Linked DNA regions of Homo sapiens. The protein of the gene in region 1 purifies or fractionates together with the protein of each later gene. This does not show direct contact. Each region holds a gene or a part of one and is shown in the gene's direction. Other genes may lie near its edges.

What was found.
Region 2: the proteins of SLC5A5 (region 1) and RHEB purify together in Homo sapiens (affinity purification with mass spectrometry, with the first as the bait; one large-scale study listed by BioGRID). This does not show direct contact.
Region 3: the proteins of SLC5A5 (region 1) and ARF4 purify together in Homo sapiens (affinity purification with western blotting; one study listed by BioGRID). This does not show direct contact.

What each region holds. Positions count from the first base shown.
Region 1 is NC_000019.10:17,870,373-17,874,122, forward strand, and holds the start of SLC5A5 (sodium/iodide cotransporter), read left to right. Parts: upstream 1-1,572; 5' UTR 1,573-1,947; coding exon 1,948-2,304; intron 2,305-3,385; exon of another isoform or gene 3,386-3,577; intron 3,578-3,750. UniProt on the Homo sapiens protein: Sodium:iodide symporter that mediates the transport of iodide into the thyroid gland. Can also mediate the transport of chlorate, thiocynate, nitrate and selenocynate.
Region 2 is NC_000007.14:151,509,894-151,513,543, reverse strand, and holds part of RHEB (GTP-binding protein Rheb), read left to right. Parts: intron 1-3,650. UniProt on the Homo sapiens protein: Small GTPase that acts as an allosteric activator of the canonical mTORC1 complex, an evolutionarily conserved central nutrient sensor that stimulates anabolic reactions and macromolecule biosynthesis to promote cellular biomass generation and growth.
Region 3 is NC_000003.12:57,587,307-57,590,956, reverse strand, and holds part of ARF4 (ADP-ribosylation factor 4), read left to right. Parts: intron 1-3,650.

The sequences.
Region 1 (3,750 bases):
TCCGGGGGTTACGTGGGGACGCGTTGAGAAACGCTGGACCCAGCTGGAGCGGCCAGGGCAGAGGGTAGGCCAGAGGAGGCCACCAGGGAGCAGCAGAGGCTGGCGAGAAGCGCTCAAAAGCCCTTTTTTTTTTTTTTTTTTTTTTTTTGGAGACGGGGTCTTGCTGTGCTGCCCAGGCTGGAGTGCTGTGCAGTTCTCGACCACAGCTCATTGCAGCCTCGAACTTCCACGCTCAAGCGATCCTCCCACTTCAGCCTCCTGAGTAGCTGGGATTACAGGCATGTGCCACCACGCCTCGCTAATATTTGTATTTTTCATACAGACAAGATCTCACTATGTTGCTCAGGGTAGTCTCGAATTCTGGGACTCAAATGATCCTCCCACTTCAGCCTCCCAAAGTGCTGGGATTACAGGCATAAGCCATCATGCCCGGCCTCTGACGCTGTTTCTTTCAACCCCCAGGATTTCAGATTCCACCAGCTTATGGAGAAGGGAACCAAGTTTGAGATGCGTGATTGCCCAGAAAGTTGGAGGCTGAGCTGAGACTTGAACCCAGAGACCAGAACCTCCAGAGGTCAAAGTCCTCCTGGGTCCCCCAGAGAAGGGCCCTGAGATGACAGCTCGTTGGTCCTCATGGAAGCGTGACCCCCCCAGTAGACTTTCTCCCACACCCAACCTTGGTTTCCTCATCTATATGATAGGGACAAGCCAGACTCTACCTCCCTGGTGGTCATGGTCTCCGCTTATTCGGGTTCATAACCTTAAAGGCCCCTCGCACCACCTCAGTGAGCCATTTATGCCTGGCACAGGGCCAACTCTCAGTGCATATCTGCAAAGGAACCAATGAATGAATGAATGAAGTGACAAATGAATAAAGGAATAAATGAATGAGGCACTTATCATGTACCAGGCTTTCGTTACCACGTCCCATTTATTCCTCTGAGGCAGGGTCTATTTTATCCTTGTTACAGATGGGGAAACTAAGGCCCAGGGAGGAGCAAAGTCTTCCCCAAGTATGTACCCACTCAGAACTTGAGCTCTGAATGTCTCCCACCCAGCTTAGCCCAAGAGCGGGGTTCAGTGATGCCCACCCCCTAAGGCTCTAGAGAAAGGGGGTAGGCCCACATGCCAGTTTGGGGGTGGTAAAGCCAGGTAAGTTTTCTTTATGGGTCCCCTGAAACCCTGAAAGTGAACCCCAGTCCTGCATGAAAGTGAGCTCCCCATAGCTCAAGGTATTCAAGCACAATACGGCTTTGAGTGCTGAAGCAGGCTGTGCAGGCTTGGATAGTGACATGCCCTCTCTGAGCCTCAATTTCCCCACCTGTCAACAGCAGACAGTGACAGCTGTGATCAGGGGATCACAGTGCATGGGGATGGGTGGGTGCATGGGGATGGAGGGGCATTTGGGAGCCCTCCCCGATACCACCCCCTGCAGCCACCCAGATAGCCTGTCCTGGCCTGTCTGTCCCAGTCCAGGGCTGAAAGGGTGCGGGTCCTGCCCGCCCCTAGGTCTGGAGGCGGAGTCGCGGTGACCCGGGAGCCCAATAAATCTGCAACCCACAATCACGAGCTGCTCCCGTAAGCCCCAAGGCGACCTCCAGCTGTCAGCGCTGAGCACAGCGCCCAGGGAGAGGGACAGACAGCCGGCTGCATGGGACAGCGGAACCCAGAGTGAGAGGGGAGGTGGCAGGACAGACAGACAGCAGGGGCGGACGCAGAGACAGACAGCGGGGACAGGGAGGCCGACACGGACATCGACAGCCCATAGATTCCTAACCCAGGGAGCCCCGGCCCCTCTCGCCGCTTCCCACCCCAGACGGAGCGGGGACAGGCTGCCGAGCATCCTCCCACCCGCCCTCCCCGTCCTGCCTCCTCGGCCCCTGCCAGCTTCCCCCGCTTGAGCACGCAGGGCGTCCGAGGACGCGCTGGGCCTCCGCACCCGCCCTCATGGAGGCCGTGGAGACCGGGGAACGGCCCACCTTCGGAGCCTGGGACTACGGGGTCTTTGCCCTCATGCTCCTGGTGTCCACTGGCATCGGGCTGTGGGTCGGGCTGGCTCGGGGCGGGCAGCGCAGCGCTGAGGACTTCTTCACCGGGGGCCGGCGCCTGGCGGCCCTGCCCGTGGGCCTGTCGCTGTCTGCCAGCTTCATGTCGGCCGTGCAGGTGCTGGGCGTGCCGTCGGAGGCCTATCGCTATGGCCTCAAGTTCCTCTGGATGTGCCTGGGCCAGCTTCTGAACTCGGTCCTCACCGCCCTGCTCTTCATGCCCGTCTTCTACCGCCTGGGCCTCACCAGCACCTACGAGGTACCGGACAGAGGCCCGGGGGTAGGACCTGCCCCACTGGCAGTGCTGGGACCCCGTGTGGGGGAGGCGCTGGGGCTTTGGGCCGCTGTACAGGAGGACGCGGATGGCACCTCGGTGCTTTAACGGAAGGGGCCCCTAGGCAGACACGTGGGGAGGGTTCTAGGAAGAGGCCCCAGGCGCCCGGCGAGGGGCAGGAAGGAGGAAGAGAGAGCCTGGCGTCCTGCTCCTTCGGTGGAAGCGCGCGCGGGGCGGGGCCCGGCTCGACCAGGTGTGTCCTCACGGGTGGACACACACCTGCCCCCCACCTGCCCGGGCGTGCAGACCCACGTGTGCGCGCTAGAGGGGACTGCTGACGGCTCCGGGGTTCGAAACCTGGCTTCACTGCTTTCTTGTATCTTGGGCAAGGGGCGTGCCTCTCTGTTTGGGTTTCCCAGCTGTCCAATGGGCGAATTACAGGACCTCCCTCCAGGGGAGAGGGTAAAGCGATTAAAATCGTGACCGGGGCCCGGTGCGGTGGCTCACGCCTGTAATCCCAGCACTTTGGGAGGCCAAAGCATGCAGATCACCTGAGGTCAGGAGTTCAAGACCAGCCTGGCCAACATGGCGAAACCCCGTCTCTACTAAAAATACAAAAATTAGCCGGATGTGGTGGTGGGCACCTGTAATCCCAGCTACTTGGGAGGCTAAGACAGGAGAATTGCTTGAACCCGGGAGGTTGCAGTGAGCCGATATCGCGTCACTGCACTCCAGCCTGGGCGACAGAGCGAGACTCTTGTCTCAAAGGAAAAAAAAATATTGTGGCAGGGCGCAGTGGCTCACGCCTGTAATCCCAGCACTTTGGGAGGCCGAGGTGGGTGGATCACGAGGTCAGGAGTTCAAGACCAGCCTGGCTAACATGGTGAAACCCCGTCTTTACTAAAAATACAAAAATTAGCCGGGCATGGTCGCGCGCGCCTGTAATCCCAGCTACTCAGGAGGCTGAGGCAGAAGAATTGCTTGAACCTGGGAGGCGGAGGTTGCAGTGAGCCGAGATCGTGCCAGTGCACCCTAGCCTGGGCGACAGAGCGAGACTCCGTCCCCCCTCCCCCCCAAAAAAATCGTGACAGGTATATCCTAGGCGGCCAACACCATTGGCCCGGGGCACTGTCTACACTGTGCGCTTGCGGGCCACGTCGGTGTCTGCTGAGCGGTGGCTGCTCCAGGAGCCCGCGCCCGTCAGGCGCAAGTGGGAGGGCGCGTGCACACGCATGGACCAGTCCTCCAGGTCCACGGGGTACGCACAGGCACGGGATGGCACCTGTGCACGGGTGTGTGCGTGCGGCGGGGCCCCCACGTGCAAGAATCTGGCGGGCGCGGTTGGCTTCCGGAGGGAGGGGCCCACCTAGAGAGCAGACCAGGGACCCGAGAGGCCTCGGCTCCTGGGTAAGGACTGTCCAGGTGACCTCG
Region 2 (3,650 bases), on another chromosome or scaffold:
AGATCTTCCACATGTTGACACATTTTATTATACAAGCATTTTTAAAAATCACATTTGTTAATATCACCACCAATCTCTGCAAAGTCTTAAGTTTTAGAACACTGTTCGCTATGAGTGGTGCAAGTTTTCCAAAATTCTAATTTCCTCCTTGAGTTCAAATAATTTCCTTGGCAACATGCTACCAGTTTTTACTTGAATTGACTGTTTTGTTTCTTTAATTTCCAAGAAAATGTCTGCCAGCTATTCACATTTGCAATAATGATAGTTTGTCATCATTCTTGCAAGTAAAAAAGGCATTCCATGATAAAAGTGGCCAGTTCAGATCACTTCTCAAATGACTGCACAAGTGCTTTTTTTGGAAACAACCATCATACTTCAGTATGTAACAGAGGTGCTTTATGTGTACATCTCATTTTGTCGTGCAGAATATTAAAAAGACAGGTACCAAAGGGTCAAGATTTAATATAATTTTACTGCTTTTTCAAGGACACTGTTAAGTAGAAACAGCTCTTTTCCCACTGTGAATGCATGGTAGTAAAGAATACAGTGACTTACCACTCAGTTTGTAACTACTGTTTTTGATTCATGCCAAGGGGTGCCGAGCTAGCAGTTTTCCCTACCATTGCTTTTGCACCCTTAGTACAAATGGGAACTTTGTGGAAAAGGCAAATGATAACTTAATATTGCTATGAATATCGTTTTGACCTCATGAGACCCCTGAAAAGATTTTGGTAAACCCCTTAGAGGTCCACAGACCACCCTTTGAGAACCATTAAACTGTTGTAAGCTAGGATCTTGTTCACTGCTGTGCAAAATCGAATTGACAGTGACTGCATCCTAAATGCTGTTCACAGCGATATGGTTCCCACAGTGTTAGAAGAGCCTCCTAGGAGAGGCCCTGTAGCGTTGTGAGAGACAAAGATGGCAAGGCAGGAAAGAACTTGGCGTGGTTAGAATGGAAGGAAGCACGAGGGAGGCCAGAGAACATCAGGAGAGTTATGATATCTGTGTGCCTATTGGTTTGGCCTCTGATTGTGTTGCATTTTTGGATGAGTTGTGTTTGGACCTGGTGATGGCGAGGCTCCCAGAGAGTAGTGAAAATTGCAAAGAGTAGCAGGATACCAGAGACCCATATACTAATAATATAGTTTTTAAATACGAGTATCAGGATGAAGGTGGGGAGGAGTACACAAGTAAAAATAGCAACTTTATCACAGAATGAGACACTGCCACCTCTACCTGTGATTGTGGAAGGTCAGAGATGCACAATGCTTTTCTTGGGTGAAGATTCAGAATAACAAGTTCGCAAACAACTGTAATAGTGTCCATGGCTGGATTGTTCTTAGTTACTTGAATAAATCAGAACTGAACTTGCACATGATTGTGCAAGTGAGAGTATTATGAAATCTTTAGGGATCATACTTGAAGGAACCTTCATTCTTAGTTCTAATTTATTCTGAAGTACCAAATGAAATCTTAACATTGATACAGTACTCACGGTCTATCTTCGTCACGTCATTCTTGCTAACTGTGAGAATGCAAACTGCTGAGTCCTTTTAACATGAATTGCTGGATTGATTTTTAAATATAATCAGCTGTGCGCAGTGGCTCTCGCCTATAATTCCAGCACTTTGGGAGGCCAAGGCGAGTGGATCACCTGAGGTCAGGAGTTCGAGACCAGCCTGGCCAACCTGGCGAAACCCTGTCTCTACTAAAAATACAAAAATTAGCTGGGCGTGGTGGTGGGCGCCTGTAATCCCAGCTACTAGGGAGGCTGAGGCCTGCAGGAGAATCACTTGAACCCGAAGGGGGAGGTTGCAGTGAGTCGAGATCGCGCCACTGGGCGACAGAGCAAGACTCCATCTCAAAAAAAAAAAAAGAAATCTAACATTTTAAAGGTTCTGGAATACTATTTTAGTATTTTAATTTTCTTCAATATATGTTGGGCTTCTGGTTATTAAAAAAAAAAAAGGAGTTCCTGTAGGATTGGAGCTTTAAATCTAAACTGGTATTAGTTTAGAACAGGAAGTGCTAGAAAAGCCTTTACGTTGTGCTCTTATGGGCAAGTTAAGAAAGCAGGGCAGTTTAAAGATAGTGATAGAATTCACTCCGAAGTGTCATGCTTGCTTGGTTTGCGTCTTATCTGTAGTAGAATTGAGTCTTTCTCTCCCGCATTTCTCTTTTTGTTGTGCTTACATGTTTGCAGAAGGACTCCTCATGGACATTTGAAAGAGAAGTTGGTGTTTTAGCAAGATACACCATCCCACCTTTTGCAGGATTGAGAGTTGAATGTTAATAACTACCTGATGGCATAGTACATAATTTGTGAATGGGGATGCAAATATGGGCTTTTACAGTTAATACAGTTTTATGAGATGAAATGCTTTTCTAAGACTTCTGTGTCTTAGATATAAATGTGTCTGCCTATTTTGCTAGCTTTATTTTTTTTTTTATTTTTTATTTTTTGAGACGGAGTCTCACTGTGTCATCCAGGCTGCAGTGCAATGTCGCGATCTCGGCACACTGCAGCTTCAACCTTCCAGCCTCAAGGATCCTCCCGCCTCAGCCTCCCGAGCAGCTGGGACTATGGGTGTGTGCCACCATGCCCTGGCTATTTTTTTATTTTTTTGTAGACATGAGGTCTTACTTGTTGCCTCGACTGGTCTCGAAGTCCTGGACTCAAGCGATCCAGCCACCTCAGCCTCCCAGAGTTCTGGGATCACAGGCTGAGCCACTGCACCTGTATTTTGCTGGCTTTAAAATCTCAATCACATTTGGCATTTGTTTGAAAGAGAACATTTGGGCCAGGCCCCCAAAGATTGAATCACTGCAACTGTTGGTTGAAGAGGACAGTTTGTGAGTGTTATGTGTTATTCAAATTAGGTGTTCATTAAGCATTTGAATAAATGCTCTACTTTGTACCAGTCACAAAAGCTAGGACAGTTATAATCCTTGCCCTCAAGGAGCTTCAGTCTAGTTGAGAGCCACAGGAACTTGTTCCTGCTACTGAGAATAATAATTGTTGGTGCTTTTGAAGCATTTACTGTTATGGGGTACAATCTTAATGCACATGTATTAATAGCCTTTAAACTCGGGTAGGTGCAGTTGTTACACCTATTTTGCAGATAAGGAAACTGAAGTACAAAAAGTTTATGTGACTTGCCCAATGTCAAACTGTTGTTAAGTGACAAAGCCAGGATTTTGAACTCAGGCAGTGGCTCCAGAGCAGGCAGTCTTTAATCAGCTACTACACGATTGTTACTTAAATACAGTTGGGATAGGTGTTTGAGAGAAATAATCAAAGGCAGGGCTAACTTGATCATCAAGTGGGGATGGGGGTGGTGGGAGAATTGTCTTTAAAGGAAAGGCAGTGTGGCTCACTGAGTGAATGAGAAGGGTGAGGTGTGAGTAATGAGAGAGGTCGGGACTCATGTGTTTGCCAACTGTCCTTCAAGAACAGTTTTGTCTGCTCTGTGAAAAGTTTTAGACTTTTTCCTAGAAACTGTGGGAAGTGACTGAAGGGTTTTAAGCAACAAATAAGACGATGATCTATACCAGGGACTGGCAGACTTGTTCTGTAAAAGGCCAGATAGTAAATATCTCAAGCTTTGCAGGGCAGGCCATGTAGCCTCTCTTGCAGCTATTCTACT
Region 3 (3,650 bases), on another chromosome or scaffold:
CTATGCTTAGAATGCAGTAAATATTCAATTTTAAATTATTATTTTAAACTATTACGCAGCCTGGGCACCATACCATGGCAAGACCTCATCTCTACAAAAAAATTTTAAAAATTAGCTGGGCATGGTGGCGTGCCCCTGTAGACCCAGCTACTAGGGAGGCTGAGGTGGGAGGATTGCTGGAGCCCAGGAGTTTGAGGCTACAGTGAGCCATGTTTGCACCACTGCACTCCAGGCTGGGTGACAGATCGAGACCCTGTCTCAAAAAACAAATGTATATATATGTACACACACACACTTATAATTATGAAGGTATATTTCAAACTTGTAGATAATTTGAAAGATAAAGGAAAACATGAAAAATCTTTTTATCCATCTGAAAATACTCTTTTGTCTTTCCAGTCTTACTCCTTTCTGCAATATTTTTTTCTCCCTCAAAGTTGAGATCATTGGATCTAACTTTTTTCTTTTTTTGAGACGGAGTCTTGCTTTGTTGCCTAGGCTAGAGTGCAGTGGCGCAATCTCGGCTCACTACAGACTCCGCCTCCCGGGTTCAAGCGATTCTCCTGCCTCAGCCTCCCAAGTAGCTGGGATTACAGGCACCCGCCACTGCGCCCGGCTAATTTTTGTATTTTTTAGTAGAGACAGGGTTTCACCATCTTGGCCAGGCTGGTCTCAAACTCCTGACCTCATGATCCATCCACCTCAGCCTCCCAAAGTGCTGGGATTACAGGTGTGAGCCACTGCACCCGGCCTCAATTTTTCATCACTAATTATGATACTAGCTGTAGGTTTTTTATAGATGTTCTTTTTTTGTTTTTTGTTTTATTTATTTATTTATTTATTTATTTATTTATTTATTTATTTATTGAGACAGAGTCTTGGTCTGTTGCCCAGGCTGGAGTGCAGTGGCATGATCTCGACTCACTGCGCCTCCACCTCCCGGGTTCAAGCAATTCTCCTGCCTCAGCCTCCCGAGTAGCTGGGATTACAGGCGCCCGCCACCATGCCTGGCTAATTTTTGTATTTTTAGTAGAGATGGGGTTTCACCATGTTGGCCAGGCTGGTTTCAAACTCCTGGCCTCATGATCCACCCTCCTCGGCCTCCTAAAGTGCTGGGATTTCAGGTGTGAGCCACCGTGCCCGGCTGGATCTAACTTTTTAAATTTAAAATGTAAGTATTTCTTGCTGCCATAATTATGGGCAAAGGTTTGTTTTTTTGGGTTTTTTGTTTGTTTTTTTGAGACGGAGTCTCGCTTTGTTGCCCAGGCTGGAGTGCCGTGGCGCGGTATGGGCTCACTGTAACCTCCACCTCCCGGGTTCAAGCGATTCTCCTGCCTCAGCCTCCCAAGTAGCTGGGTTTACAGGCGCCAGCCACCACGCCTAGCTAATTTTTGTATTTTTAGTAGAGACTGGGTTTCACCACGTTGGCCAGGCTGGTCGCGAACTGCTGACCTCGTGATCCACCCACTTCAGCCTCCCAAAGTGCTGGGATTACAGGTGTGAGCCACGGGGCCCGGCCTTGTTTGTTTGAGACAGGATCTTGCTCTGTTGCTTACGCTGAATTGCAGTGGTGTGATCATGGCTCGCTGCAGCCTTGATCCCCTGGGCTCAAGGGATCCTCCTGCCTCAGCCTCCCACGTAGCTGGGAATATAGATGGGCACCACCCTGCCTAATTTTTGTTTGTTTTGAGACAGGGTCTCAATTCTGTTGCCCAGGCTGAAGCACAGTGGTGCGATCACAGCTCACTGCAGCCTTGACCTCCTGGGGTCAAGTGATCCTCCCATCTCAGCCTCACCCAGTAGCTGGGACTACAGGCATGTGCCATCACAACCGGCTAATTTTTTTTTTTTTTTGAGACGGAGTTTTGCTCCTGTTGCCCAGGTTGGAGTGTAATGGCGCGATCTCAGCTCACTGCGACCTCCGCCTCTCAGGTTCAAGCAATTCTCCTGCCTCAGCCTCCCGAGTAGCTGGGATTACAGGCATGTGCCACTACACCCAGCTAATTTTGTATTTTTAGTAGAGACGGGCTTTCTCCATGTTGGTCAGGCTGGTCTCTAATTCCTGACTTCAGGTGATCCACCTGCCTTGGCTTCCCAAAGTGCTGGGATTACAGGTGTGAGCCACTGTGCCTCACTCACACCTGGCTAATTTTTGTATTTTTTGTAGTGACAGGGTTTTGCCATGTTGTCCAGGCTGGTCACAAACTCCTGAGCTCAGGTCATCCACCTGCCTCAGCCTCCCAACATGCTGGGATTACAGGTGTGAGTAGAGACGGGCTTTCTCCATGTTGGTCAGGCTGGTCTCTGACTCCTGACTTCAGGTGATCCACCCGCCTTGGCTTCCCAAAGTGCTGGGATTACAGGTGTGAGCCACTGTGCCCCACTCACACCTGGCTAATTTTTGTATTTTTTGTAGTGACAGGGTTTTGCCATGTTGTCCAGGCTGGTCACAAACTCCTGAGCTCAGGTCATCCACCTGCCTCAGCCTCCCAACATGCTGGGATTACAGGTGTGAGCCACCATGCACAGCTTCCCAGCTAATTTACTTTTTCTTCTTTAAAGATGGATCTCGCTATGTTGACCAGGCTGGTTTCAAACTCCTGGGCTCAAGCGATCCGCCTGCCTCAGCCTCCCAAAGTGCTAGGATTACAGGTGTGAGTGACTGCCTGGCCAGCAAAGATTTCTGAGGTAGTTTTCCTGCTATAGTAACACTTTGGTCAAAGTGCAGGTCTAGTTAAGGAGAACAAGTATTCCAGTACATCTTTAAATACAGTTGCTTGTTTCTGGACACGGAGGGGAGGGAGACCATTGCTGGGCTATACAGATTAGTCTTATCTTGGCTAGTTGAAAATTGGTAATAGTTTTCATTTTGTGGAGAAATTTCATTGCCAAATATTGCAACATTAAGGAAATACATAAGAAATGACTGAAGTGGCTCAAAATTGTTGGACCAATATGTTTTTGAGTAAAGAACTATAAGTTTTAAGTGATGACTGTATATGTTTAATTCGTGCATTAAAGCTTATAAATACCTTTTTCAAAAACTCTTAATTTGCATTTATACAGCATTGTTATTTTTGATACAACTGCATAAGATACATTCTGTGTTGCTGTGAGCCATTAAACTGTTGTCTTGTAATTTATATTTAGAAAATAATTTGTGGATACTTAAAAGTCATTATGGGCGCATTATTTTTTCCCCTTGAATTCTGGGGTGACCTAGAAATGGTTGCATGATTTTGTAAACACTTCCCTTTTTAAAAAAGTAAAATGAGTATGTAAAATATTATATATTTAAAGCCCTCAAGCAGTCGTCTTCAAAAAGATACATCAGGAAATGTAAACAGCCCAACATTTTAATTAAAAAAAATCTGCTTGGACAATTTTTTTTCTCTTTTCATAAAAGTAATACATGATTTTTGGGTAAAAAAAAATTCCTATCAGTAGAGGAGCAAGGAAAATAATTATTCATACAGTATTCATACAAGCACATATAAAACCTATTAAAAGAAAACTTGGATTACCTACATGCTTTTGTATAATTTAAAATGATATAGTCATGATTTGTCTTGGATTTCTTCAATTCTTTTCTTTGTCAGTATTTTTGGATTTACTTTTTTTTTTTTTTTTTTTTTTTGAGACTGAGTTCC